7 linked regions of the Homo sapiens genome follow. The protein of the gene in region 4 interacts with the protein of the main gene of each other region in a pairwise test. Each region holds a gene or a part of one and is shown on either strand. Other genes may lie near its edges. The genes, in order: CAMK1, RHOXF2, GPATCH8, ATXN1, TLE5, CENPV and SDCBP.

Region 1 (3,769 bases), on a different chromosome or scaffold from region 4:
GAAGGGACCGAGCCCCCAGACCAACAAGGAACTGGGTGAGGAAAGTGGGCTGCAGGGGCTGGCAGTGGGCTGGGATGGTAGAAACTTCTCTCTCTCTTAGTCACCTCTCCCTCAGACCCTACTTCTGTTGATGGGTCACAGAAGGGGTCAGATAACTTAGTCTCATCACTTCTGATTTAGGAAACTTTTTCCGGAGCCTGTGGGGACCTTATGCTGGCTGGGCCCAAGCGGTGAGTGTACCTAGGTGTCCTCCCTAGGTTTCCTCTCCTCCAGCCCAGACCCAGTGGACTCTTCCACCACCGCCCCAGGTGGCCCTAAAGGACTCTCCAGCCACCCCTGTCCCAACCCCAGTGGATTCTCATTGCCTTCGGCCCTGTTCCCCAAGGACTCTTCCACCTCCCAACACTGTCACTAGTCTCACCAGCCCTGACCCCAGTGTACCCTCCTCCCCACACAGACTCCACCCTCCTACAGGTGCTGTTCAGTGCCGACCTGCGCCAATCCCGCCATGCTCAGGAGCCACCAGCAAAGCGCAGAAAGGGTTCCAAAGGGCCGGAAGGCTAGATGGGGCACCCTGGACAAAGAAATTCCCCAAGCACCTTCCCCTCCATTCCCCACTTCTCTCTCCCCATCCCCACCCAGTCTCATGTTGGGGAGGGGCCTCCCTGTGACTACCTCAAAGGCCAGGCACCCCCAAATCAAGCAGTCAGTTTGCACAACAAGATGGGGTGGGGGATATTGAGGGAGACAGCGCTAAGGATGGTTTTATCTTCCCTTTATTACAAGAAGGAACAATAAAATAGAAACATTTGTATGGAAAATGCAGTGAGGAGTGGTAGGGAAGCAGGTGAGGAGGGGACAGGGCAGAGAAACTCCCGGTTCAGGGAGGGAAGGGGAGCAGGCTGCCCCCAAGCCCTCCCACGCAGAGGATCATGACCCGAGGTCCAGGGCCCTAGAGCTGGTGGGGCAGTGTGGGGGACAGTTCTGTGCCCGGCTCCACGCAGCAGTCTCGACAGCAACAGCCAGCTGCCGGCCCTGCATGGGAAGACAGAACAGAGGTGGCCGCAGGGGCAGGCCCTCCACTCCAGCCCGGGTGCACCTTTGTGGACCACCCATGCCCTTCTGCAGAGCCCGCTCCTCACCCCCAGCCACTGGTGTCAGCAGCTCCCCATGGCTCGCCGTCTGCCCCTGCCCCTCCTGGCTGGTGCCCAGCTGCAGTTTCCTCATGTGCCGCACCACAGCCGTGGCATTGAAGGCTTGCTGGCATTGAAGGCATTGAAGGGAGAGGGGAGAAAGGACTTTTGAGAGAGTCAAGTCATGGGGCAGGGGCGCAGTGGGATTCTTGCAATTGTTCTGTTATTTTCATTCAGGAGTTATTTTATTAATTCCCCTAAAGCCCCCCAAAAACCTCTACAAGGCTTTATTATATATTTACACACACACACGCACATATGTTAGATGTATGTGTATCTATATATATAAATAGAAACATAACTATAATTCATATTAATATGTAATAGCAAACACTATAGCACTGTATGTCAGGCACTGTTCTAAGCACTTTACGTAGTAATTCATTTAATCTTCATGAAAGTCTTTGAGGTAGGTACTATTATCATTTTCAAAGGAGGAAACTGAGGCACAGAAAGCTGAAGTAACTTGCTCAGGTGTGTCTCTATTCAATATCTCCACCTAGGTGTCCCACACACCCCTCAAATTCACCATGTCTAAAACTAAAACCATCCCCCCAAAACATGTTTCTGTCCCTGTGATAACCATCTCAGTCATGGTACCACCACCATCCATTCTGTTCCCAGCCACAGTCTTGGGCCAGCCCTTGACATCTCTTTCCCCCAACATCCATTGCATCGTCATGTCTTGTCAGTTTCACCTCCTAAATGACTCCTGGATCAACCACTGTTCTCTGCCCCCTGTTGCTGCTACTGTGGTTCCAAACCCTTACCATCTCCTGCCTGTATCTCTGCCACAGCCTCCTAATGCGTCACCCAGTCTTTACTCCATGCCATTCTCTGCATCCTGAGAGCTCTTTCTTTTTTTTTTGAGGTGGAGTCTCACTTTGTTGCCCAGGCTGGAGTGCAGTGGCGCGATCTCAGCTCACTGCAACCCCCATCTCCGAGGTTCAAGTAATTCTCCTGCCTCAGCTTCCCAAGTAGCTGGGATTACAGGCACGCACCACCATGTGTGGCTAATTCTTTTATTTTTAGTAGAGACAGGGTTTTGCCATGTTGGCCAGGATGGTCTTGAACTCCTGACCTCAGGTGATCCAACCACCTCGGCCTCCCAAAGTGCTGGGATTACAGGCGTGAGCCACCATGCCTGGCCCTGAGAGCCCTTTCTATGCAGCAAATACTTGCCTAAGATTCTTCTGGGGCTCCTCAGTGCCCTCAGGATCAAGTTGGTGCTCCTCTGTGGCATATGAGGCCCTAAGAGGCCTGGCCCCTTACCTGCTTCTCTAAATTGGGCTCCTGCCTCTCAGTCCCCTCAGCCCCTCCAGTCTGGCCAGGCTTAGCACTTGCACTTCCCGGAATGGCTATAGACATTATTCCGCTATGCCTCACTAATTCCTACTTAACTGACAGCTCTGTCAGGTCATCACCACTTTTATGACCTTTCTCGGACCCCATAGGCTGGATCAGATGCCTCCTGAAGAATTACAGACTTCTTCCTCTAGACTTGGAGGTGAGGGACCCTCTCTGGAATAGAGAAGGTGTTGGGAGTGTTTGTTGAATGAAAGAGTGAATGAATGAAGTCCTTCAGTAAGGATCCCTAAGCAGTTACTGTGTGCCCAGTGTGATGCCAGGTGCTGTGCAAGCTGAGCCTGGGTAGGGATGGGGAGGAGTCCTGGGGAGGCTGGGACCAGAACTAGGGATATGGACTCACCTTCCACTTGCTCTTGGCAAAGTTCTTCTTGATCTGCTCACTCACCGACTGGTGGATATTCTTATCTAGAGCTGTATCTCCTGCAATCCTAGGATGGGGTTATGTGGTGGGTTGCCTATGAGGGCAGAAGCAGACCTGAGGGCCCCAAATCCCGCCCCAGCTCACAGGTTGTGTGAATTCTCACCATGGGTGCTGCAAGGCCTGCTCACAGGTGAATCTTTTCTCTGGGTCCTTCTCCATCAAGTGCCGGATGAAATCTTTGGCTAAACCCCCAAGACAAAAGCAAAGATAATGACAGCATGGTACTGCCTGTGTACTCCCCAAGAGCATACCCACTCCCTCAGGTCTGGCCTGGCATCAAGACAAAGAGGCCAAATCAGTCCATGCCCCACCCCACCCAACCTATGCTCTTCTTCAGGCCCTCCCACCCCGTGCCTTCCAGCTCTTTCCTTTCTCTCTTAAGAAAAACATATGGCCGGGCACAGTGGCTCATGTCTGTAATCCCAGCACTTTGGGAGGCCAATGCAGGTGGATCACGAGGTCAGGAGTTCAAGACCAGCCTGGCCAAGATGGTGAAACCTTGTTTCTACTAAAAATACAAAAAAAATTAGCCGGGCATGGTGGTGGGCGCCTGTAATCCCAGCTACTTGGGAGGCTGAGGCAGAGAATTGCTCGAACCCGGGAGACAGAGGTTGCAGTGAGCCGAGATTGTGCCACTGCACTCCAGCCTGGGCAACAGAGCGAGACTGCGTCTCAAAAAAGAAAGAAAAAAAAAAAAAAGTTGTTCTTGACTAATCTCAGTGCATTCACACTGATGATAAACGATAGTAGCTTCACAGGTTTGCTTCTTAATAGGGGGCACAAAAGG
Region 2 (2,927 bases), on a different chromosome or scaffold from region 4:
GTGACACACAAAACAAATGTACATACCCTTCACATATTTATAGAAACATTTTTACAAGTGCCCTAAAAATGGGTCAATGATGTACTTTTCTTTAAAACGTTTAATAGACATTTGATGAACTACTTTTGATGGGGTGCTATGCAAAATATGAATCTGGCTCAAAGACACTCTGGCAAAAAGTGGCACAGAGGCTATCCCTTAGACATTGGGGAATGTGAAAGAAGGCACGATAACAAAAGGGAATGGGCCAAATTCAGCCTGGCCAGCGGGTGGCATAGGTGGAAGAAGCATGAGTGGAAGGGGCAAGGACGGAGGAGGAAAGGGTGGCATGGGGAAACACAGGCTGCTGGAATGGCTGTGGTCCCAGAAGTAATCATCTCTCATCCCGCTGATGAACAAGGGTGCCGTTATGGCCTCAGCTGCGGTTACCATGACAGGCTGGCCCACTGCCATGAAGGGCAGCATGTTTCTTGCCATTAATGCCCTCTGATGTCTCCTCCATTTGGCTCTTCTATTCTCAAACCAAATCTTCAATCAGAGGAAAAAAGAAACAGGTTTAGTATACTGAGCATTTAATTTCATCATGGAAAAAAACACAACAAGCAACTCTCTATGTCCTTAACCTTTTCGGGTGTATCAAGACAAGCTACTTCCTTACTACTAAAATATCTTAGAAAGGTGACCACCACACCTTTCCCCTAGTGAGCTCCAAGTATGTGCTACGTACGCTCTGGCTTGGCTTATTTCTTTGTCTCTCTCCTTTTATCTGTAATATTACTTTTTCCACTCTTGGGTGCAGGTGTAGCTGATGAGTGGGACTCGATCCCTGCTGGTATTGCTATGTGTGGCATGTCTGCTTGCAGATACTTGACCATCAGCTACCCAGCTGCCCACCAACTCCTACTTACTAGGCCACTGTCACCCTGGTCGTGGGGGAAGCTGAGCTTGGAAAAAAAGGCGGGGGTGCCTTTTAAAGTCATACCAAGAAGATGAGGCCCCCGTTTTGAAAAGCCCATCTTCAGTGTAAAGTAAAAAATCGGTAAGAGTACATTGTATTTTAAAACAAGTTTTCTTTCCTTCAAGAAATTCTAAGGGGTCATTCATCTTCTGAAACTCCTTGAGAATTAAAAAGATGGTATATTGCAAGGCAAGTCTCGTTATAGGGGGCCCAGGGAGTTTGTGGATTGTCTTGCTGGGAAATGAGGGTATCTGAAGCCCTGGACACTCTTCACACTTCAGCTTGAAGCTTTGTGGAAGGAGGACACAAATGTTGTCCAAATTCACAAAAATTCTCAAAAAGCTTTGCCCAGTTGAGAGTTTGAGAGAAAGGAAGCATTGCTAATTCTGCACGCTCCAACTCATCCCTCCCTCCAAATCTTCCTGGGCTAAGGACAAGGTCAGCTCACTTTGTTCTCCCTATAGTCCTGGGATATGGGACAGAGACTTGGTTGCCCAGTTCCATGGGACGCCTTCAGCCATCTAGCCTCACTACTCGAGCAGAAGATCCCAATCTCATCAGCATTCCCAAAGCGGGAGTGTCCAAATAGGCAACTCTGAACACGTTCAGTAGTAATGTGGAGGAGGTATCAAAAAACACTACTCCCCAAACACCTGCCAATTGTTAAAAGACCAAAAAATAAAACCTGTCAATTAAACAACACTATCCCCCAAGCTTCTAGTTAATGACATTTCCATTGTATTTTGATCCTTCTGGAAGTTCCCAAACTGCAAATTTTATGGGACAAAGGGACTCTTCTCCCTGTTTGATGCCCCATTTCCTTCTCCCATCTTACTATTTGGAGTCCTTCTCCCTCATGAATACATAGTCTAAATTTTAAGCCTACCGTAATAGTGCTTGTTTAGAGACAATTCCAATGTACCTGTGGTCAAAGGTTCATAAACATAAGCAATGCCAAAAGTGGGCCAAATGTGCTATGGGACAACATTAGGTCCCTAGTCTCCGTATCGGTTTCATAAACCAGCCCTTACTATCTTTACAAAACAGAGGGGGGAAACATCTATTAAAAATTTTTGGAGATATTCATGCTGAAATGTTTGGCAATAGATGAGAACATCATGCCTTTTTCCTTATTTGCTGAGTGAGAGTGGTCCTTTTGCCTTCAGAACTGCATTGAGTGAATGCTATGTAAACCCAGGGAGGGGAAAGGCAATTCACCAAAACGTCAATATTTCATCTCCCCCAAATTGGCATTGCCTGCCTGAGAAAATGGAGGGCAACAGGATGCCAACACTCAGTGCCCCGTTTTGTCAGGCAGCTTTTCTGCATGCCACCATTGACAGAACCGCAGCATAGTTCCCTCACTGCACTCACACACATGAGCTCTGCAGAAAAGCTATTAAGGTCATCCCGATTTTTCTTTCTTTTCTTCCTTTTTTGCAAATACTCCTTTGGATCCACTGACCTACAAATTTATTATCACAGCCTGAGCAAATAAATAAAAAGGTATTTCAAATTACCACAGGTAAGAGTCTAGCCTGACCTGACAGCCATCCCCCACTATCAACACATTCCACAAAACACATCTCTTCCTGTTAGTACAACAAACTGGAAGAAACAAAAAATCTCTTAAATGCTAGAAATTGATCAAGAAAATATTCACTGATGCATTTGGTAGCTTCAAAAGTTGAATGGGGGCAGCTTCCCCAAGCCATGAGTGTGACTGTATACAATTCTTGCCTAACACTTCCATCCTTAGGTTGGTGGAAATTTATGAAAAATTGATCTTGTAGTTTGTTTTGGTTTCTAGATAAACTTGCAAAGGTTGCAAGCCTTTTCGCTATCTCTACCATAATGCAAAACCAACTATGTCAGCAATGTTTTCAGCCTGCCATATCAAAGTATTCCAGAAAATTAAAATTTAGAGCTGCCACTCTCTACAAGGCTTCACCAAATACTTAAAAACAAT
Region 3 (4,168 bases), on a different chromosome or scaffold from region 4:
TCCAAAGAAATCATTTGGTATAAGAACGACCATACATTATACACCTTCTTTCAGCCTGGGCATATTTAACTTTTTGCATTGACTAATACGATATGCATTAAGCACATTTGCTTAGACCTCCAGAGTTAAATGGACAATTCACTTTTTATAAGTGGAAAATTATTACAACATCTTCTGGTATTCACTGCAATATCAAATCAATGACTTCTTTCAGTATTTGTGGTGGTCATCTGTAATTCCTTTGGTAATTACCATGAATCTGCTTTCACTTAATGCTAAATGGTAATGCTAATATGAAAAGAAAATTAATGCCAGACTTACAAGCAAAAGTACCAAGTTGTTTCAGGGAAGGAATTTTAATAGAACTCACGAACTGGAATCTATCTACTTCAAGCTAGAAACCATTTTCATTAATAAAATACTAGAAACTAAGTCACAAGAGCAAAAATGAAAACTTTACATAGGTTTCTGATTCATAATTAAGATCTCATGAACTTCTGCTACGCTTTCAGAAAATGGCAATCTTGGCCAGGTACAGTGGCACATGCCTGTAATCTCAACACTTTGAGGGGCCGAGGTGGGAGGATAGCTTGAGCTCAGGAGTTTGAGACCAGCCTGGGCAACATGGAGAAACCCCATCTCTACAAAAATGAAAAAAATTAGCAGGGCTTGGTGACACACCTGTAGCCCCAGGTACTCAGGAGGCTGAGGTGGGAGGATCACTTGAAGCTGGGAGGTCAAGGCTGCCAGGAGCCATGATCGCGTCACTGCACTCCAGCCTGAGTGACAGAGTGAGACCTTGTCTCAAAAACGAATTTTTTATTTAAAAAAATTAAATTTAAAAAAGTCTTGACCACATCAAAAAAACAGACTGTCAGCTGGGTGCAGTGGTGCATGCCTGTAATCCCAGCACTTTGGGGGGCTGAGGTGGGAGGATCGCTTGAGCCCAGGAGTTCAAGACCAGCCTGGGCAACAAGTTGAAACCCCGTCTCTAAAAAAAGTACAAAACTTAGCCAGTCATGGTGGTACATTCCTGTAGTCCCAGCTACTTGGGAGGCTGAAGCGGGAGGATTGCTTGAGCCCAGGAGGTGGAGACTGCATGAGCCAAGATCCCACAACTGTACTCTAGCCTGGACAAAAGAGCCAGACACTGTCTCCAAAAAAAAAAGAAAAAAAGAAAAGAAAAACAGACTGTCCTTTTAAAAATTTTTATCATGTACCCAGATAGACAGAAATCACATGGAAATGTATCTCAATTATGAAGCAGCACAATCAGGATAGCTTATTACATATGTATCTTGAAATATTTTTAAGTCACAAATTTTAGCTTTGGTTATACAATTTATCATAAAGACATGAGAAACTGTGATGAAAGAATCCCTTTGCAGTACTCTAATGAGAACTGTGTTACATGTATAGAAGAAAGGGAAAGGTACAACAGGAGTACCTGTTTTTCTATCATTTTGACTGTATTGTAAGAGCCCTGAAATAATACTCGGCATAATACTCTATTTGTCCAGATCTGTTTCTTCCTGCCTCCCATGCCTACTTTGAAAACAAATAATATACATCATCACATGAAGTCCTCTGATCACAGTTCTTCCCAACCCCAATCTTTCCTAATTACAACTTAAGTCTCTCTCTGTGATGTTGAGATGTCCTTGATATGTCCCACATTTGAAAAGTGATTATATACCATTTACCCTTCAAATCACCTCCAGGGAAACTTCTCTTATGCTGACTTTACTTTGGTCACTCTCGATCTCCTAAGAATGTATTAACCAATGTCAATATCATTTTGCATTTGCTAACAATCATGTCAATTCAGCATCAGTATTTTGAAACTGGTACAGCCCTGATTCTAATCCTTTTCACTTATCATACTATGAGACAGGGAAGAGTAATGATTTTGTATAAATTTCAGTATCCCAAGCCAAACTGACATTAATTTTCACAGCTTGTGGCATTTCTTCCAGATTACGGGAGCGAGACATAGGAAAAACGATTTAAAACACTTGTCCATGTGTCATATCTGGCATACCTGAATTACAATGCCAACTATATTACATACAGAAAATACACTAATATGCTTCTGTGACTTAAATATCTTAAAACTATGAACCTCTTCACTTAATAGTCTCAACTAAGAATTTCCTAAGGGTCACATACTGGTTACATATGGAAACACAAAGAGGATTCCTACAAACATACTGCATAAATGTAATACATGACTAGCTTATTGCTATTTACCATTATGATTACTTACATAGATTACAGAAAGTTCTTGGGCAATTTCTGTATTTTTATTACGACCTTTAACATAGCATGTCTTGTTTCTCTTATCAACTTATCACTCACTGATCTATTACTGTAGTTCCTTTTCATTAGAAATAAAATGCAGAGGGCCAGGCGCGGTGGCTCAAGCCTGTAATCCCAGCACTTTGGGAGACCGAGGTGGGTGGATCACCTGAGGTCGGGAGTTTGAGACCAGCCTGACCAACAGGGTGAAACCCCGTCTCTACTAAAAAATACAAAAAAATTAGCTGGACATGGTGGGACATGCCTGAAATCCCAGCTACTCGGGAGGCTGAGGCAGGAGAATCACTTGAACCCGGGAGGCGGAGGTTGAGGTGAGCCAAGATGGTGCCATTGCACTCCAGGTGGGCAACAAGAGCGAAACTCCATCTCAAAAAAATAAATAAATAAATAAAATGCAGAGAACACTCGGAACACGAATCATCAGTCCTCTGCAGGTACATATACTAAAGAACATTTCCTCACCAGCATTCAGCTGCATCACCAATAATAGCTGCGCAACCATAAAATGCTAAGCACTGTTTCTTAATGGCACCGTATAGCTAGCTGTACATCACTGTACAAACAAAACTTTCTTTAATGAACCTGTAATCCAAAGTGTTGATTATCTTAAGTTATACATTTTCCATTAGTTTGTGTAACACTTCAATTTGGGAACAAATATATCTTAATCTGGTAAATGCTGGCAGAAGTAATATCTCATTCAGAAATTGAGGCCAGATTCTTAAAGGAGTAGTTAAAACTCTTAAAACATTTGTAAAAATAAATACATCAGCTTAGATTACAAAGATTTCCAAAGATTAAAAAAAAAAAAAACACTTAAAAGGCTAGACAAAAGAATGTCTAAACTAAAACAGGTAACAATATATCCTCTATGACACAATGTAATTTATCATTGTTGAAAGCCTCCCTAGAAGCCGTTGGGAGACCAGAAAGAGACAGATCTGGACAAAACCAAACAAAATAAAAACTGGAACTGTATCACCTTTCTAAAAGCTCCCTTATTCTTTGTCACCTATAAGTCTATCCTCCACATTTGATGACCCAATTACAGCTACATAAAATGTATAATTGTCAGCAGCAGACAGAATGGTCATGAGGACAAGTACAAGAATCCAAAAGCCAGTATGAATTTAGGCTCTGCCATTTAACAGATGTATGTAATTGGCTAAGTTACTTAATTCTCTGTGCCTCAGCTGAAAACGGCAGTAATAACAGTACCTACCTCGTAGGGTTATAGTGAAGACTATGAGATAAGACACATAAAGCCTGTGGAATAGGACCTGTTTGTTATTATAATAAAGTTACCAATTAAAAAAAGTTAGGTCCCTGATAATTATTAATCTCTATATACATGAGTGCTTCAAGTGGCATACCACTGTTAACTATAACTTTTCACTATATATACAAAATACCTTCGCAACTTTAGGTATTCACAAATTTTAATAGCCCAACTCCCTCACTCCATAATAATTTCAAGAGACATCAAACTCTCCAAAATTTGCACTTGATAAACCGGTAAAGAGTGAAGTTCTACAACTTTAAATCATCCTGCTAAATTAAAGGCAAAGAAAATAAGTCATCTCGAACTTACCAGAGAAGATGAACAATTTCCAGTGCTACAAGATCTGTTGAAAGCAACAAGATCTATCCACTGTGTTTGGAAACCTACTATGACTTGTTTTCAAGTATAGTCAGTGGCTTCACCCAAAACCTTAAAAGGAGGCCACGTTTAATTTTGAATAACCTGAAGCTGAAAATGTTTCAGATACATTATTCACAGGAGAATCCTATTACATTACATTCTCTCACCAATAATTTTGAATCAAAATACATCATTAAATGAAAGTCA
Region 4 (4,168 bases):
GCAGGATGACCAGCCCTGTCCAAACACAAAAAAAGGATACTCTACCAAAACTTCAACGCTGACCTGTGGAAACAGGGAGAGACAGAGAGAGGAAGAAGGAAGGGAACAAATGAAAACATTTTATTCTTGTTTGATTTTATGCACACACACAGGTATGAACTCACACAGACACACACAGGCTGAATGGGGGAAAATGACTCAGTTTGCAAACCTCCCTCTCCCCCAGCCACACACTATAAATGAGGCTCTTCTCTTTGGGTTGTACCTCTACTTGCCATAGGCAGAAGCCAGTGAAAAGGTCATCAATATTCAAAATATTCCATCAAGTGTTAGCTCTATAGCTGGTCTCTGTTAGAACCAGTCAATCGAACCCCAGTAATGACAGAGCACCCACTTAGCTTTCAGCACCAAGCTAGGCTCTGCAGGTGGCTCACAAGCCCAGCGCGGTCTTAGATTTTATGAGCTCAATGGACAACTGCTATTATCATACAGGACAGGACTAAACATGGATCAGAGTGAGACTGTGAGTTCCAAGAAGCAGGCACAGTGTGTTTATCACTGAGTCCCCAGCCCCTAAAAGGATGCTTGGTGGCTGGGCACAGTGGCTCATGCCTGTAATCCCAGCACTTTGGGACACCAAGGTGGGTGGATCATTTGAGGTCAGGAGTTCAAGACCAGCCTGGCCAACATGGGGAAACCCCGTCTCCACTAAAAATAAAAAAAAAAAATTAGCCATGCGTGGTGGCGGGCACCTGTAATCCCAGCTACTTGGGAGGCTGAAACACTAGAATCACTTGAACCCAGGAGGCAGATGTTGCAGCGAGCCGAGATCGTGCCACTGGGCGATCCAGCCTGGGCCACAGAGTGAGACTCCGTCTCAAAAAAAAAAAAAAAAAGTCAATTTCCAATGTCCTTTCTAGATGTAGTAGACTAGGTAATTTGGACCAACCCTCCTTCTGAGGACAACTAAAAACTCTGAACAAAAATATAAGCAAACAAATAAATTTAAAAACTCTGGACAAAATGTTTAAACTTTTTTTCTTATAGTACTGGACAGCAAATAAGATAGTAAAAAGGCCAGGCGCGGTGGCTCATGCCTGTAATCCCAGCACTTTGGGAGGCCAAGGCGCGTGGATCACCTGAGGTCAGGAGTTTGAGACCAGCCTGGCTACCATGGCAAAACCCCATCTCTACTAAAAATACAAAACTTAGCCAGGTGTGGTGGTGGGCCCCTATAATCCCAGCTACTCAGGAGGCTGAGGCAGGAGAATCGTTTGAGTCCGGGGGACGAAGGTTGCAGTGAGCCAAGATCGTGCCACTTTACTCTGAGACCAGCCTGGCCAGCATGGTGAAACCCTGTCCCTACTAAAAATACAAAAATTAGCCAGGTGTGGTGGCAGGCGCCTATAATCCCAGCTACTCAGGAGGCTGAGGCAAGAGAATCGCTTGAACCCGGGAGGCGGAGGCTGCAGTGAACCGAGATCATGCCACTTCACTCCAGCCTGGGCGACAGAGTGAAACTCCGTCACACACACACACACACACACACACACACACACACACACACACACACTTCCTGGGTTGGATCAGGAAAAGATGATGGCCCAGAGAGGTGAAGCTGGTGTTGGGGGCCTGTTTTCTCCTGAAGGCACTTGAACATTCCAAAGTGGAGCAGTTGGGAAACCAAGTGGGCTTTTGATAGTGTTAAGAGCATAGGGAACAGGTAATGGAGTTCAGGATACACCAAGGGAGGGTGTTCTCTGGTGAGCCCCATTCTTTTGAGTTGTGACCCCAAAGCACTGTCCCTTAGAGGAGACAGTGAACCACAAGCCAACAGGCCTTTCAAGGTCTGAAGCTCAGATTGACTCATCTGAGTCCCTAAAACTGGATTAAGGTCTTGAATTACTTTCACAATTTTGCAAATAAAAGCATTCAATTTAAAAAAGGGGGGTGGTGGTCATGAGGAGACCAGATAGCTTGTATAAGCACTAGCAAAATATCAGATCTTAAAAAAGGATGCACCAGGGCTTCTCATATAGAGTCATACATATAGACTTTACAAAGACTATGCTTACAATAATTAAGAAGATTAAAGACAGCTTGAGAATTTTGATAGGAAACTAGAATCTGTTTTTAAAAGATCCATGAAGCCAGGCATGGTGGCTCATGCCTGTAATCTCAGTACTTTGGGAGGCTGAGACAGGGAGGATCACTTGAGGCCAGGAGTTTCAGACCAGTCTGGGCAACAAAATGAGACCCCGTTTCTACAGAAATTTAAAAAAAAATAGCCTAGTGTGGTGATGCGTGCCTGTAGTCCCAACTACTCAGGAGGCTGAGGCAGGAGGATCTTGAGCCCAGGAGTTAGAGGTTGCAGTGAGCTATGATCACAAGACTGCACTCCAGCCTGGACAACAGAGTGAGACTCTGTCTCTAAAAAAAAAAAAAATAAATAATAATAATAATAATAATTAATTAATTAAAAAAGGTCTATGAGAATTGTAGAATTAAAATATACACCACTGAAATCAAGAATGCAATGAGCTTTCCAGTTGAATAGACATGGATTAAGAAAGAATTCAGGAACTGGATTCTCTAATTAGAGCTTTAGAAGAGACTCCACAGAGTGAACATAGAGACAAAAAGATGGTCAATATGGAGGAGAGGGTAAGAGACACATAGGATACATTGAGAGGGGCTAACAGACACATAATTTGAATCCTAGGAGGAGGAAGAGAGGGAGATAATAGGGCAGAAGTTAATACTTGAGGAGGTAATGGCTAAGAATTTTCCCAAACTGAAGAAGGATAATAAGACAGTTTCAAGAAGGCCTAGCCCCAAACAGGAAAAATAAACAAAAAGAAATCCTCACTGAGGCAGATGAGAATTAAACTGCTATAAATCAAAGACATCTTGTAAACTAAACAGGAAAAAATATCGTTAAAAGCCTCTAGAACAGGCTGGGTGTGGTGGCTCCTGCCTGTAATCCCAGCACTTTGGGAGGCCGAGGTGGGTGGATTACCTGAGGTCAGGAGTTTGAGACCAGTCTGGCCAACATGGTGAAACCCCATCTCTACTAAAAATGCAAAAATTAGCTGGGCATGGTGGCAGGAACCTGTAATCCCAGCTACTCGGGGGGCTGAGGCAGGAGAATCACTTGAACCCGGGAGGCGGAGGTTGCAGTGAGCCAAGATCGTTGCAGTGAGCCAAGATCGTTGCAGTGAGCCAAGATCATTCCATCACACTCTAGACTGGGCGACAATAGAGAAACTCCATTAAAAAAAAAAAGCCTCTAGAACAAAATACATATTATCTCCAAATAAGCAACAATGGAACTCACAGTTTACATCTCAACAAAAATAATGGAAGCCAGTAGACAATGGAGACAATGGAATATCTTTACAGTGCTAAAGAAAAAGAATTGTCAATGGCGAATTCTATATGGAGCAAAAAGATCCTTCCAGAATGAAGGCAAAATAGAGACATGTTCAGACAAACAGTAATTAAAAGAATTCACCATCAACAGATCTGCATTATAGAAAATACTAAAAGGTATTCTTTAGGTAGAGAAAAAACAAATCTAGATTGAAGTTTGTACAGGGAGGAATGAAGAGGAATGAAAATGGTAGATACATGGTGAATCTGAATGAATATTGGCTATATGTAACAATATTTAAAATATTGTTGGATTCTTTTTTTCTTTTTGTGAGAGGGAGTCTTGCTCTGTCGCCCAGGCTGGAGTGCAGTGGCGCGATCTCGGCTCACTGCAATCTCCGCCTCCCGGGTTCAAGCGAGTCTCCTGCCTCAGACTCCCAAGTAGCTGGGACTACAGGTATGCACCACCACCACCACGCCCAGCTACTTTTTGTATTTTTAGTAGAGTGGGGGCTTCACCATGTTGGCCAGGATGGTCTCGATATCCTGACCTCATGATCCACCCGCCTCAGTCTCCCAAAGTGCTGGGATTACAGGCGTGAGCCACCGTGTCAGGCCTCCATTGGATTTTATACACATTCAGACACACAAAAACACACATGCATAATTGAAGTACCAAAAAAACTTTAAAAGTAGTAGATTTCCACAGATTGTTGCTTTTCTACTTCATCTTCTTTGTTTCCTTTGTTAACTCTGATTGATCTAGTTCTGATACATTTCTAGAATGACAGACTTT
Region 5 (4,753 bases), on a different chromosome or scaffold from region 4:
AGCAGGAAGCCCAGGCCCAGCGGATGGAGACCCCAAAGCTCAGAGAGGGCTTCCGGCTTAGCAGAGGTCACACAGCACTGTGACCGCCATCTGATCCCTTCCCTGTGGAATCAGGTCAGCCCCGGGGCTCACCAGGCGGTATCCAACCCTTCATATCGAGGAACCCGCACAAAAGCTTCTGGGGCCTGCATGGAAAGCTGACTCCAGCACCTTCGACTGTCAGTGTCTCAGTTTGCCCAGCTTGAGAATGGGTACGACAGTCGGACGACAGGAAGGATGAAGCACGAGGAGGCACGAACGGTCTTGAGCACACAGGGAGTACCCAAAAAGGTGGGATATTTGCAGCAGCAACAACAAAATCGAGATTCCCCTTTCTACTTGGAGGAAATCCAGGATCCTTCCAGGAACACTTCTGGGGTGGGCACGCTTCAGTTTAGAGAGGGCCCCAAGGCCAAACGGGGGTTTGAGCATAGCCTGACTTTCTCCAGATTCCCAGGCCCGGCGTGCCCCTCCAGAGCAGGGCAGGCGAGAACCTATATCCTTAAACCAGGAGAGAGACCTGGTGCAAACCTCAGCCTTGCCACTTCCTCAATGCTATGGACACCCCCGAGGAAATAACATCATAACATCTCTGGGCTTAAGTTTCTTTTTTTCTTTCTTTTTTTTTTTTTTTTTTTTTTTTGAGACAGAGTCTCCCTGTTACCCAGGCTGGAGAGCAGTGGCTCCATCTCTGCTCACTGCAACCTCCGCCTCACGGGTTCAAGCAAGTTTCCTGCCTCAGCCACCCGAGTAGCTGGGATTACAGGCGCCCGCCACCACACCCAGCTAACTATGTATTTTTGGTAGAGACGGGGTTTCACCATGTTGGCCAGGCTGGTCTCGAACTCCTGACCTCAAGTGATCCACCTTCCTCGGCCTCCCAAAGTGCTGGGATTACAGGCATGAGCCACCACGCCTGGCCTGGGCTTAAGTTTCTTTAAGTGTAAGAGGACTAAATAGTTCCTTCCCCTTAGATACCGCAGCGTGGCAAGCTCTTCAGAAACGCCAGATTTCTGAAAGAAGCAGCACCTTGGAGAATCTGACGGGTGCTGGGAACCCTTTCTCCAAAACTGGGCAAAGAGAGAGATGACCAGGCTGCAGAATGTTTCTGTTTTGGGGGTTGAGGGATGGCGAGTCCGTGCCGTAACTCCAATTGTTGGAAGGTCTTTTATCCAATGGGGGACTTGGGGGTATTGGGGAGGAGGGAGGGGCTCTGAAGCCACACAGCTGAATCTTTGGGCAAATTATTTAACTATTTTTGTGCCTCGGTTTTCTCCTCTACAAAATGGGGCTGTTTAAAATAAATGAATTCAGTATTTGTCAAGTGATTAGGTCAGAGTCTAGCATATATTATTTTCCCAATCTCCAGGCCTCAGCCTTGCCATCTGCGCAGAAGAAATGGGGGGACTCACATTCTCGGGACGCAGGGACCCCCAGTCCCCCAGCTCACCTGTGGTACTGAGCTTGCAGTAGCTGAAATTCGTCTTTGATGCGGTCGCAGGAGTCCGAGGTGGTGAATTTGAGTTGCTGGGGTAGGTGCGAGGAGCCCTGTAGGGATGGGGCGGCCCGGGTCAGGCCCAGGCGTGGGCTGGACCCCCCTCAAGGGCCGGCTAGGAGGGAGCGGCCGCGCAGCTGCGGCGCCCCCCCTCCTGCCCCACTTCCTGGGCCCGTGTTTACGGCCCCTGGCGCGACCCCACCCGCGCTTCCTGCCCCCCGCCTCTCCCGGGGGAAGCCGAGCGGGTGGGTGCGCCCGGAGCCGCCCCGTCCCCCGCCACCCCCAGGCAGTGGGGGTGCGTTTTAAGGCCCGCCCTAGATGGGGGGCAGGGTGCGCCCTCTACCGCCCTCCAAAGCGCCGGGAGGGAGTGCACATCCGAGGGGGGTAGAAACGCGCCCTAGGGAGCCCCCTCCCCAAGTTGGGGGGCAGCGATTCCTCCCTGCAAAGTCCTCTTGGGGGAGGGGTCTCTCTCTCGGTGCTCGAAATCTTCCGGGGGGGCCCAACCCCAGATTCCCAGCGCCCTTCCTCGGGGACACGCTCTTCCGGGAGGGGTGCGCCTCGGATCACCCCCCCCACCACAGGCCCCCAAAGGATCCCCGGGCTAGAGGTGCCTCGCGGGGCTTCCGGAGCGCCCCAGGCCCGAGGCCAAGGCCGTCCGAGGCCCTGACTGTCCCGGCGGGTTGGGGGGGGGGGGCGCCAAGCCGGGAGCTGCGGCGGGGGGGCTCGGGGCCCGGAAGCTGGGGTGGATCGGGAACTGGAGGGGGGGTGTCCGGGGGCCGGCGGCAGGAGGGGAGGGGGGTCGCGCCGGGCTGGGAGCTGGAGAGGGAAGACAGGGCCGGGGAGTTGGGGGGGGCGCCGGGCCGGAGGCACCGGGCCTGGGGGTTGGGGGGCGCGGGGCCGGGAGCCGGGGGTCGGGGGCGTAGGGCCCGGATCCGGGGTGGGGGCGCCGGCCGGACGGGCCCCGCTTACCGAATGCCTGCTTTGTGGAAACATCATGTCAATCGCGGCGGGGGGCGCGGGCTGCGCCCCGGCTGTGCGCCCCGGCTCGGGCTGCTGGGGGCGCCGGGCGGCCGCGCCTTTGTCCCGGCGCCGATCGGCAGCTCCCGGGGCCGCCGCCGCCTCCCGCGCCCGGCCTCGCCCGCTTCCTGCGCCCCCTCCCCGCGCGCCCGGCCCCGGCGCGCCCCGGGCCCCGCTTCCTGCGCGCCCGGCGCCCCTCCCCGCCCCTCCCCGCCGCCCGCCTCCCCGCTCCCCGGCCCCACCGCTATTGTCTAATGGCGGCGACGCCGGCAGTGGCCGCGGCTCGGCTGCTGCGGAGGCTTCGGCTCCACCTGCCGCCGCCCGTGCCCCGTGCGCGCCGCCGAGGGGGGGGACGCGCGCGCCCGGGGAGGCCTGCGGATCCCCACGCCGGCCCGCCTCCCCGTGGCCCGCCCGCCGCGGTGACCTTGGGCCCGGCCCGCCCCCGCCCCGGGCAGCGGCCCCCGCCACCCTCTCCTACCCGGCAGCCGGCCGGGCCTCGGTTTCCCCATCTGTCAAAGAAAAGGGACCCGGCTGCCCGCGTCGAAGCCGCCGGCCCTGCTGTGGCACGACCTGGACGCGTGCCACGGACGTGCTCTGTGACCTTGGCTCTGGCTGGGCGGTGGTTCTTGCTGAGCCTTAGTTTCCTTTTCTGCAGAAAGGCAGCGGTAATGCCGCCTTCCTGAGGGAAGCCATTCTTGTGACACATTTATAGAACGCCTACTGTGTGCCAGGCCCCGCTGCTCCAGGGCCCTGGGGTGGGGCGGGGCGGGGGTGGGTCCCTGCCCTGGTGGTGGTGCCTGGAGACAGACAGAGACAAATTCACAAGCTGAATTCCTGGCAGGTCAGATGGTGGGGACAGTTCTGCAGAAAAACCAGCCGGGAGAATGGCAGGGTAGGAAGGTGCAAAGTTAAAGAGGTGGGAGGGAGGATCAGAGACGGCTTCCTCCACCCCTAAAGCGACCTGAAGAAGGAGGGAGAACAGGGGGATGGGGTACAGAGGTAGTCAGAGGCAGGACCAACAGGTGCAAAGGCCCTGGGGCAGGACTGTGCCTGGCAGCAGAGTGCCCGGGGGGAGGTCAGGAAGGCCGGAGGGAGGCAGGGCCGGGGGCTTCGTGCTTTTGTCCAGGGCCCCCCCACCCCACAGCAGGGCTTGTGCTTGGGTTAATATTTACTGCTGCATTTTGAGATTTCTAATCATTTTTGAACAAGGGGCCTTTGAGTTTTCTTTTGCACTGGGCCCTGCTAACTCTGTAGCTGGTGAAGCAGGCCAGTCCAGCAAGGACTTGTGGGTCTTGGGGAGGACTTGGGATTTTGCTCTGAGTGAGGTAGGAGCCCTGGAAGGCTGTGGGAGGAGGAGGGACGGGACCTGGTGGTTGGTTGGTTTGTTTTTTGAGATGGAGTTTCGCTCTTGTTGCCCAGGCTGGAGTACAATGGCACAATCTCAGCTCACCGCATCCTGGGTTCAAGTGATTCCTGCCTCAGCCTCCCGAGTAGCTGGATTACAGGCACGTGCCACCACGCCCCGCTAATTTTGGAGTTTTAGTAGAGACGGGGTTTCTCCATGTTGGTCAGGCTGGTCTTGAACTCCCGACCTCAGATGATCTGCCCGCCTCGGCCTCCCAAAGTGCTGGGATTACAGGCGTGAGCCACCGTGATCAGCTGTTTGTTTGTTTTTGAGATGGAGTCTCACTCTGTTGCCCAGGCTGGAGTGCAGTGATGTGATGTTGGCTGACTGCAGCCTCTGCCACCCGGATTCAAGTGATTCTCCTGCCTCTGCCTCCTGAGTAGCTGGGATTACAGGTGCGCATCACCACGCCTGGCTAATTTTTGTATATTTAGTAGAGACAGGTTTCACCATATTGGCCAGACTGGTCTTGAAATCCTGACATCAGGTGATCCTCCCGCCTCCACCTCCCAGAGTGCAGGGATTACAGGTGTGAGCCACTGCGCCTGGCCCTGGACTTGGGCTTTTGCTCTGAGTGAGGTGGGAATCCTGGAGAGCCGTGGGAAGAGGAGGGATGGGACCTGGTGGCGGTTATTAAAGGATCCCTCTCTCTGCCACGCAGAGAACAGGTCCCAAAGAGGCTACTGAAATAAGGCTATGACATTAAGGTCCCCCTTTGGCAGGTGCGAAACACAGTCTCTTCATCATCGTCATCCACTAGGCAGCCTGCTCCCTTGAATGAATGCAATTGATTTGGG
Region 6 (4,168 bases), on a different chromosome or scaffold from region 4:
CTCCCTGAGCCAGGTTTGGCCAAGGCTAGACAACATTCAATACCAAGTTGAGAGTACAACATGCAGAAAGGCACAGCCCAGAGCAATCTCTGACTGGCAGCCTGAAGAATTCACAGGCCTTTCCTGTGTTTAGATAGATAACTTTCTTTCCTTTTTTTTCAGATGGAGTTTAGCTCTTGTTGCCCAGGCTGGAGTACAATGGCGTGATCTTGACTCACTGCAACCTCTGCCTTACGGGTTCAAGTGATTCTCCTGCCTCAGCCTCCCAAGTAGCTGGGAATACAGGCGTGCGCCACCAAGCCTGGCTAATTTTGCATTTTTAGTAAAGATGGGGTTTCTCCATGTTGGTTAGGCTGGTCTCGAACTCCCGACCTCAGGTGAGCCACCATGCCTGGCCTCAGATAGATAACTTTCTAAGAATTAAATGTCTTCCCATTTGCACAGGATTTCATACTTTTCAACTCTTTCCTGTTCTGCAAGGTAGACAGGAAGGAGTCTCCATGTGACAGATGAGGAACAGGAGGCCCTGAAGCAATGGGGGAGCGGTAAGGATGACATCCTGCCCTGCCCTGCCTCCCCCACCTCCCCTGTCCGCTCCCCACCACCATAAGGCAAAAGACACTGACAGTCATAGCTGCTCTCGCAGCTCTGGAGGCTGCACTGACACAACAAGAGTCCTCAGAACATCTTCCACCTCTGCTTTCCCCTTCAATTCACACTATAGTTGGTATGATTCTCAACAACTGTCAGAGGGTTAGTTTTATTACTCCCCAGACCCAAGCAGGCCCTGAAGCGGGGCTTGGAGGGTTCCCTGCTTGTTTATTATTTTTTAAAAAGAACAGAGATACGGTTTTGCTATGTTTCCCAGGCTGGTCTCAAACTCCTGAGCTCAAGAAATCCTCCCACCTTGGCCTCCCAAAGTGCTGGGATACAGGTGTGAGCCACCGCAGCCAGCCAGTCCTGCCTAATTTTTGAACAACCAAAAAGCTTTCAAATGCCATTATCAATGCTCCCCAATCTTGCCTCCTTCACTCCCTTAACCCCTGTCATTATTAAAGCTGCCTCCCCTGGCCCCACAAGCCCATCTCCTCACCCCTCTCCTCCCTACCCTTCAACACCATCCCCAGCAACACCAGCTCTACCAGCACCAGTGAATAAGAATCACAACCTGGATGGGCTCCAAGTCCAACTTCACCACATTCAGATATGGGATTCAGAAAAGTTTCACCGGAGCCCGACTCACATTCTATCATGTGGAAAGCGCTCTGCTGAGGAGCCCTGTTCCTCTAAGATACGCATGTGACAGGGTCTAGTCAGCATCCCACCTGTCCAAATAAGACTTTAAATGAGAGCACCATGGGCCTCTCTGTGTCCCCCTGAGCTTGCAGTCCATCCCCTTTACTCACCGAAGCCTCCGGGGTTTGATCGTGGAGTATAGAAGCTCTGAACGCCACATCTCTTACAGAAGGTATGCTGGGCTTTGTGAGTATTGAACGTGTAAGTCGTTATGTGCTCAGCTCCCTAGGTGAAAACAGACAAACGGTATTCTTTTTTACAAAGAGATTTATTTATTTAATTTATTTATTTATTTATTTATTGAGACAGAGTCTCCCACTGTCTCTCAGGCTGGAGTGCAGTGGCGCAATCTTGGCTCACTGCAACCTCCACCTGCATGGGTTCAAGAGATTTTCCTGCCTCAGCCTCCCAAGTAGCTGGGATTATAGGCGCGTGCCCCCATGCCCAGCTAATTTTTTGTATTTTTAGTACAGACAGGGTTTCACCATGTTGGCCAGGTTGGTCTCGAACTCCTGACCTCATGATTCACCCACCTTGGCCTCCCAAAGTGCTGGGATTACAGGTGTGAGCCACTGCGCCTGGCCCCAAAGACATTTATTTTTATGTCACTTAAAAAATACACCTTTGTAGCCGGGTGTGGTGGCAGGCGCCTGTAGTCCCAGCTACTCGGGAGGCTGAGGCAGGAGAATGGCATGAACCTGGAAGGCCGAGCTTGCAGTGAGCCGAGATCATGCCACGGCACTCCAGCCTGGGCAACAGAGCGAGACTCCGTCTCAAAAAAAAAAAAAAAAAAAACACCTTTGGCCAGGCATGGTGGCTCATGCCTGTAATCCCAACACTTTGAGGCCGAGGCAGGCGGATTGCTTGAGCCCAGGAGTTCAAGACCAACCTGGGCAACATGGCAAAACCCTGTTTCTACAAAAAAATATAAAAATTAGCCAGGTGCAGTGGCACACATCTGTAGTCCCAGCTACCTGGGAGGCTGAGGTAGGAGCATCAGTTGAGCCTGGGGAAGTAGAGGCTGCAGTGGGCTGAGATCGCACCATTAAAAAAAAAAATCTTGAAATAACTTAATGGCAGGAGCTCTTCTGTAGGGCTCTTTGTACTAAGAGGCCATTTCCTATCTCCAGAAGAGACTGGGACCTTCTTGAGGACAGAGACCCATCTACACTATCCAGAGACATGTCAGTCTGGAGCGTGACAGCTCACAGCTTCCCTTAGGTCAACGGCATACAGAATTCAGCCTTGAGCCTTCCCTGATACATCACATCAGGGAGGGAAAGTGCTTGCTTCCCAGGGCCTATGTGGAGAGACAGTTCACCCAAGGGACTGGCTCTCCATGTCCCCAAACAGAACGGCTCAAGGTCTTAAGAAAACTGATGGCTGTGCTTAATTTATCCACAAAGGACAAACCAGGAAAAAAATATTTGCCAGACGTCATAGACAGGCTAATTTCCTTAATGGATAATACAAACGGGAGACTGGACAAAGGACATGAACGGACAGTTCAGATAGAAAGAAAAATAAATCACTCTTTAGCCTATGAAATGCTCACCAAAGGAACTTCAATGAGATGTATTTCACTGTCAGGTGGGCAAAATCAAAGCCGTTAACATGGTATTGACAAGTATGTAGAGAAATATGTGCTCACATATATCAGTCACAGGAACAGGAATTGGTACAATTTAGCAACATCTACCAAAATTTTAAAGTGTACATATGCTTTAGCACACAATTCCATTTCTTGAAATTTATTATACAGATATATTCCAAATGTCTCAATGACATAGGTATATAGATACTATAGCACTGTTTATGAAGGCTAAAGATTGGAAAAATTGAAAATGTCCCTCAATAGAGGACCGGTTAGGCATTATGGACACTCATAAAATGAAATATTCTCCAACTTTTGAGAAGAATGAGACAGCTCTACAAAACTAACATGGAACAATTGCCAAAGTTACAAAGTAAAGCAAGGTATAGGCCAGGCGCAGTGGCTCACGCCTGTAATCCCAGCACTTTGGGAGGCCAAGGTGGGCAGATCACTTGAGGTCAGGAGTTCAAGACCAGCCTGGCCAACATGGTGAAACCCTGTCTGTACTAAAAATGTAAAAATTAGCCAGATGTGGTGGCGGGCACCTGTAGTCCCAGCTACTCAGGAGGCTGAAGCAGGAGAATCACTTGAGCCTGGGAGGCGGAGGTTACAGTGAGCCGAGATCACACCACTGCACTCCAGCCTGGGCAACAGAGTGAGACTGTCTCAAAAAAAAAGTTAAGCAAGGTATAAAACAACGTACGTGGTATGCTACCATTTCTTTTTTTTTTTTTAAGGCTATATACTGGTATGTGTGGTGTTTTTGTTTTGTTTTGTTTTGTTTTTTTGAGACAAGATCTCACTCTGTTATCCAGGCTGGAGTGCAGTGGTATGACGACAGCTTACTGCAGCCTTGACCTCCCAGGATCAAGTGATTCTCCCACCTCAGCCTCCCGAGTACCTGGGACTATAGGCATGCAACACCACACCTAGCCGATTTTTTATTTTTTGTAGACATGGGGGTCTCGCTATGTTGTCCAGGCTGGTGTTGAACTCCTGGGCTCAAGTGATCTGCCTGCCTTGGCCTTCCAAAGTGCTGGGACTACAGGCATGAGCTACTGTGCCTGGCCTGTATGTGCTTTTATATGCATATGTATCTTTGAAGAGGGATCCAAGAAACAGTGGCTTACCTTTAGGGAGAGAAATCAGACAGCTGAAGGGGAAGGGGTGGAGGTTTCTTATCCTTGTTAACCCTCTTTACGCTTCCCCAGCCATACCGTCCAGAATTGTGCTTCCTATAGAAATAGCTCCCTGAGGAGCCTTGCTCACTCCATAGCC
Region 7 (4,168 bases), on a different chromosome or scaffold from region 4:
TTTCAAAAAATGGTGCTGAAATAACTGGGTTTCCACATGGATAATAATGAATATGGATCTATACCACACACCGTGTACAAAATTAACATAAAATAGATCAAAGATATAAATGCAGGAATTAAAGACATAACATTTTTTGAAGAAAACATAAGGGTAAGTCTTCATAACCTTGAGTTGGGCAGTAGTTTCTTAGATGTTATATCTAAAGCATAAGCAACCAAGAAGAAATATAGATTCAAATTTGTCAGAATTAAAAACCTCATATTGCAAAATGCACTGTGAGAAAAAATGAAAAGACAATCTACAGAATAAGAAAAGTATTTGTAAATCATATATGATAGTGGTCTATGATATGGTCTGAATGTTTGTGACTGTGTCCCTCCATTCATATGTTGAATCCTGTAATCATCAAGGGGATGGTATTAGAGTTACCATATGACCCAGCAGTTGCATGCTTAGCTATATTCCAAGAGAATTAAAGATGCATTTATTAAAAAAGTATATAAACTTACATATTATTTGCTAACAATGCAAATGCTCATTGGCATTTTTAACAGCATTATTTATAATAGCCAAAAGTGCAAATAACCCAAATGTCATCAGCTGATGACAGCATAAATATAATGTGGTATACATACAATGGAATATTATTCTGCTATGAAAATGAATGAAATACTGATACATGCTCCAACACAGATGAACCTTGAACATATGCTATGTGAAAGAAGCCAGATGCAGAAGGCCACATATTCTAAGATTCTAGATTAAGTATCCAGAGCAGGTAAAAACAGAGGCGGGAAAGTGTATGTTGCCTGGAGCTGGAAGGAGGGTAGAATGGGGAGGCATGAGTTTTCTTTTGGGGAGGATGGAAATATTCAAAGATAGGTAGTGGAGATGATTGTAGAAGTCTGTGAATATACTAAAAACCATTGCATTATATACTTTGAAAGGCTGAATTTTAGAGTGTGTGAATTAAATTTAAAAAAAAAACTATCTCATACTGTCCAACTAGGAGACAGAGACCATATAGTGATTTTAACAGTGGAGGTTTAATACACAGAATTACTAGTTATAACATGATTGAAGAAATAGAAATTGACTTGTAAGAAGTAAAGACAACTTTTAAGAATACTGTAAGAGCAGACTTAATAAGTAGCCACTAACTCTAGGGCTGTTCCCATACTGGGGCTGAGATTCAGGTCTGGTTGAAGAGGGGACAGATGTCACTGGCAGATGCTGAAGTTGCCGGATACCATGCTTCTGGAACTTATTCTCCCTCTGGCATTCTGAACCTTGGAATTTGCTGCAGAAGCCACGTGAAGGGGTTGAGAAAGCTGCTCAGGGAGATTCCTTGGTGGTGGCATTCTGCTGCAGAGTTACTCAATAGAGTGCTGGGGTGAGCTTCTGCATGCTTGTGAAACTACTCCTGGCAGGAGTCTGGCTAGAGTAGTACGTTGGAACCATGAAGAGAAAAGCTCTTCCTCCTACAGTGTACCTCCAGTTGCCTCTACTGACAAGGCTTAACATCATGCCAGCTGGTAACAGAGCAATGTTGAAAGAGCTCAGCTCCATTTTGGGAGAGAAAGCAATAAGAAGTGGATTTGGAAATGGGAGGTAATAAATTGATACCTGAATCAAGAATCTTACGTTAAACCACATACCAGTTTAGCATATATTCTGTTTTATTGGGTTGAGTGAAAGTATCAGGTATTCATCTCAAAACAGCTAAATAAAATTTAAAATATGCATTCATATAATACATTTAGAGAATTGTGTTTTAAATTATTACAAAAAGCAATTTATAACTAAAAAACATACTTCTACTTAATACAGAAGTATTTTAAATGAAAAGTAAAAATTTCCCTCTTATTCCTCACTCCTTTACCATCTGTCTTCTGAAGAAAAATCTGTTAGCAGTTGATATAGTTTCTTCTGTATACATATATGTGTGTATATATTTTTCTTAGTAATAGAGGTTCATGTATTGATACTGCATATGATCTGCTTTTAGGCTTTTATTGTTAGAAGGAAATGTAGCTGTGTAATGCCCAAGGGCATTGTACTAAGGGTAGTTTCCTAGTCCTGGCTAAGTTGCAAGTACTTGTGTAAGTTAGGAGTAAGTCACATAACTATTCTATTTGATTTTCTAAATTTGTAAAATGAAGGGACTTTTACTTGAATTTTAAAAATCGGTGATGGATATAGTTCAATAATACTATTAGGGGAAGGAGAGGTAGTTTGGTAATTCTTAAGTATCAGCTAACTTTTAGTATGGCCTATATATTCTTATTTTTTAATATGTTTTGCAATTTAAATGTTTTTTATTGAGTTAAATAGTTCTACTTGTTTATGTGTCTGTGGTTAGCTGTGTATACTATTTCAATTTCTATGACATTAGAGTAATAAAACTTTCTTTTTTTCTTTAGAAGAATCCTGCAAAAATGTCTCTCTATCCATCTCTCGAAGACTTGAAGGTAGACAAAGTAATTCAGGTATGATAGTTTAAATACTTTTGTCAAAACAAACACAGTAACATGCATTCTACTTATAGGTGAAATAAAGCAAGATAGCTAAATAGCAGATATATTTGTTCATTTTTACACTTCATAAACCTTTTTTTAGTTTTATTAATTGCAGACTGAAAAGTTTACAGAAAAATTAGCAATTTTTTTTTTCATTTCACTGTGAATTAATAGGCATGAGATTTTTTTAATTCGACTTACACTTTTTACATTTCTGGTTAAAATTTAATTATATGTAACATATTTGAGTTGACAAAATATACTCCAATTTTGTAGATATTCATAGTTTTGTATAAAATTGGTATATTTTTCTTTTGGATCTTTAGGTATGACCACTCTTTAATTCTATGTCTCTTAACTGAAGTTAAAATTACAGAAATAGTGGCGTACATGCTGCTTTTAGAAGAGCAGTCATGTAAGAGCACAGGGAAAGTGTAGTGATTTCTTTCCTTTGAGAGATGAGCAGCAGACATTTCACTTGTTCATTCTCTAAATGACTGTGTAGAGATTGCAGTATTTCTAATTGCATTGAGTTGAAAATTTTTATACTCCTTTGTATAAGTATTAGCTTTGAAGACAAATGCTTCTGCTTAAGAACAAAGTGAGGAATTGGGACCAATTCTGGCTAATTGGGAAATTTTTGGTAATTATTTTAATTGGGGGTAATTTGTAGTATATGATGAATTTGTTTACGGTTAGCTTTCAACTTGATCTCTTATCAATTTAGAATTTCTTCAGCCGTTGTTTATTGTTTTAATTTGACAAGATAAACGAAAACTCCTTACCCTGAAGATCATTTTATTGGGTCCCTGTCTTCAATTTACTAGAAAGTGAGATATTCAATTTACTTACTGATAATTGAATTATGAACAATTATTTTCTATCATAGATCCAGTATGGATATTAAAATGAGGTTTGTAAAATCTCTAAAATCTACAGTTCAGCTGCCAAGGCTTTGATGCCTCAAAGTTTCAAGTGGCCTATTCAGTCATCTTTTACATGTTCCTATCACTTCTTTAGTATTTTGTCAGTATTTTCTTCATGTGGTTTTTATTTCCACATAGTTCATCTAAACAAGCACTTTTCTTTTTAAAAGGCCTTTATCTGAAATATTTAGCTTTCCAGAATAACTGCTTAGCCATTAATATGACATCAATACATTAACTGATAAGGATTTTTAGATGGACCTGTAAGAATGACTAATCTGTTCTTTGTTTTCATCCTTTTTTTGTTAGCTTTTTATGGAATTGAATGTAAATTCACCATAGTCAGATATGAGCTGAGGCTTTTGGTTTTGAAAACAGCAGCAGCAGAAGAGTTGATATTGACAAATATTGGAATGAAAAATAAAGAGGGCTACAATCTGTATCATGCTGCCCTCTTTAAGCAGAAGTGAATTACATAGATATTTACATTAAAGAACGTTTTATGTTCAGAGCAGAAAGCAGCTGGGAGATAGAACAGTGAATAAGGAGTGGGAAACATGGTTCTTTTATTACCCCTGAATTTAAAAATATTCCTAATTTAGCCATTAAACTCTTTGGCTGTTTTTGTTTTGTTTTGTTTTGTTTTTTTGCATCATTTTCTAAGGTGGATGATACTCATGTTTGTTTTTATTCTTAAGATTCTCCTGAAACGGTATTATG

The links.
Region 1: the proteins of ATXN1 (region 4) and CAMK1 interact in binary tests that used the Homo sapiens proteins (3 or more experiments, as listed by UniProt).
Region 2: the proteins of ATXN1 (region 4) and RHOXF2 interact in binary tests that used the Homo sapiens proteins (3 or more experiments, as listed by UniProt).
Region 3: the proteins of ATXN1 (region 4) and GPATCH8 interact in binary tests that used the Homo sapiens proteins (3 or more experiments, as listed by UniProt).
Region 5: the proteins of ATXN1 (region 4) and TLE5 interact in binary tests that used the Homo sapiens proteins (3 or more experiments, as listed by UniProt).
Region 6: the proteins of ATXN1 (region 4) and CENPV interact in binary tests that used the Homo sapiens proteins (3 or more experiments, as listed by UniProt).
Region 7: the proteins of ATXN1 (region 4) and SDCBP interact in binary tests that used the Homo sapiens proteins (3 or more experiments, as listed by UniProt).

What each region holds. Positions count from the first base shown.
Region 1 is NC_000003.12:9,756,587-9,760,355, forward strand, and holds the end of CAMK1 (calcium/calmodulin-dependent protein kinase type 1), read right to left. Parts: intron 3,165-3,769; coding exon 3,086-3,164; intron 2,990-3,085; coding exon 2,902-2,989; intron 2,701-2,901; coding exon of another isoform or gene 2,601-2,700; intron 1,261-2,600; coding exon 1,143-1,260; coding exon of another isoform or gene 1,036-1,142; coding exon 953-1,035; coding exon of another isoform or gene 931-952; 3' UTR 761-930; downstream 1-760. Other genes in the region: OGG1 (N-glycosylase/DNA lyase), read left to right, coding at 1-35, 181-230. UniProt on the Homo sapiens protein: Calcium/calmodulin-dependent protein kinase that operates in the calcium-triggered CaMKK-CaMK1 signaling cascade and, upon calcium influx, regulates transcription activators activity, cell cycle, hormone production, cell differentiation, actin filament organization and neurite outgrowth.
Region 2 is NC_000023.11:120,161,059-120,163,985, reverse strand, and holds part of RHOXF2 (rhox homeobox family member 2), read right to left. Parts: intron 529-2,927; coding exon 199-528; 3' UTR 1-198. UniProt on the Homo sapiens protein: Transcription factor maybe involved in reproductive processes. Modulates expression of target genes encoding proteins involved in processes relevant to spermatogenesis.
Region 3 is NC_000017.11:44,496,782-44,500,949, forward strand, and holds part of GPATCH8 (G patch domain-containing protein 8), read right to left. Parts: intron 1-4,168.
Region 4 is NC_000006.12:16,306,797-16,310,964, forward strand, and holds part of ATXN1 (ataxin-1), read right to left. Parts: intron 64-4,168; coding exon 1-63. UniProt on the Homo sapiens protein: Chromatin-binding factor that repress Notch signaling in the absence of Notch intracellular domain by acting as a CBF1 corepressor. Binds to the HEY promoter and might assist, along with NCOR2, RBPJ-mediated repression. Binds RNA in vitro.
Region 5 is NC_000019.10:3,059,671-3,064,423, forward strand, and holds the start of TLE5 (TLE family member 5), read right to left. Parts: upstream 2,826-4,753; 5' UTR 2,531-2,825; coding exon 2,504-2,530; intron 1,588-2,503; coding exon 1,490-1,587; intron 1-1,489. UniProt on the Homo sapiens protein: Transcriptional corepressor. Acts as a dominant repressor towards other family members. Inhibits NF-kappa-B-regulated gene expression. May be required for the initiation and maintenance of the differentiated state.
Region 6 is NC_000017.11:16,343,191-16,347,358, forward strand, and holds part of CENPV (centromere protein V), read right to left. Parts: intron 1,522-4,168; coding exon 1,407-1,521; intron 1-1,406. UniProt on the Homo sapiens protein: Required for distribution of pericentromeric heterochromatin in interphase nuclei and for centromere formation and organization, chromosome alignment and cytokinesis.
Region 7 is NC_000008.11:58,562,593-58,566,760, forward strand, and holds part of SDCBP (syntenin-1), read left to right. Parts: intron 1-2,426; coding exon of another isoform or gene 2,427-2,441; coding exon 2,442-2,492; intron 2,493-4,168. UniProt on the Homo sapiens protein: Multifunctional adapter protein involved in diverse array of functions including trafficking of transmembrane proteins, neuro and immunomodulation, exosome biogenesis, and tumorigenesis.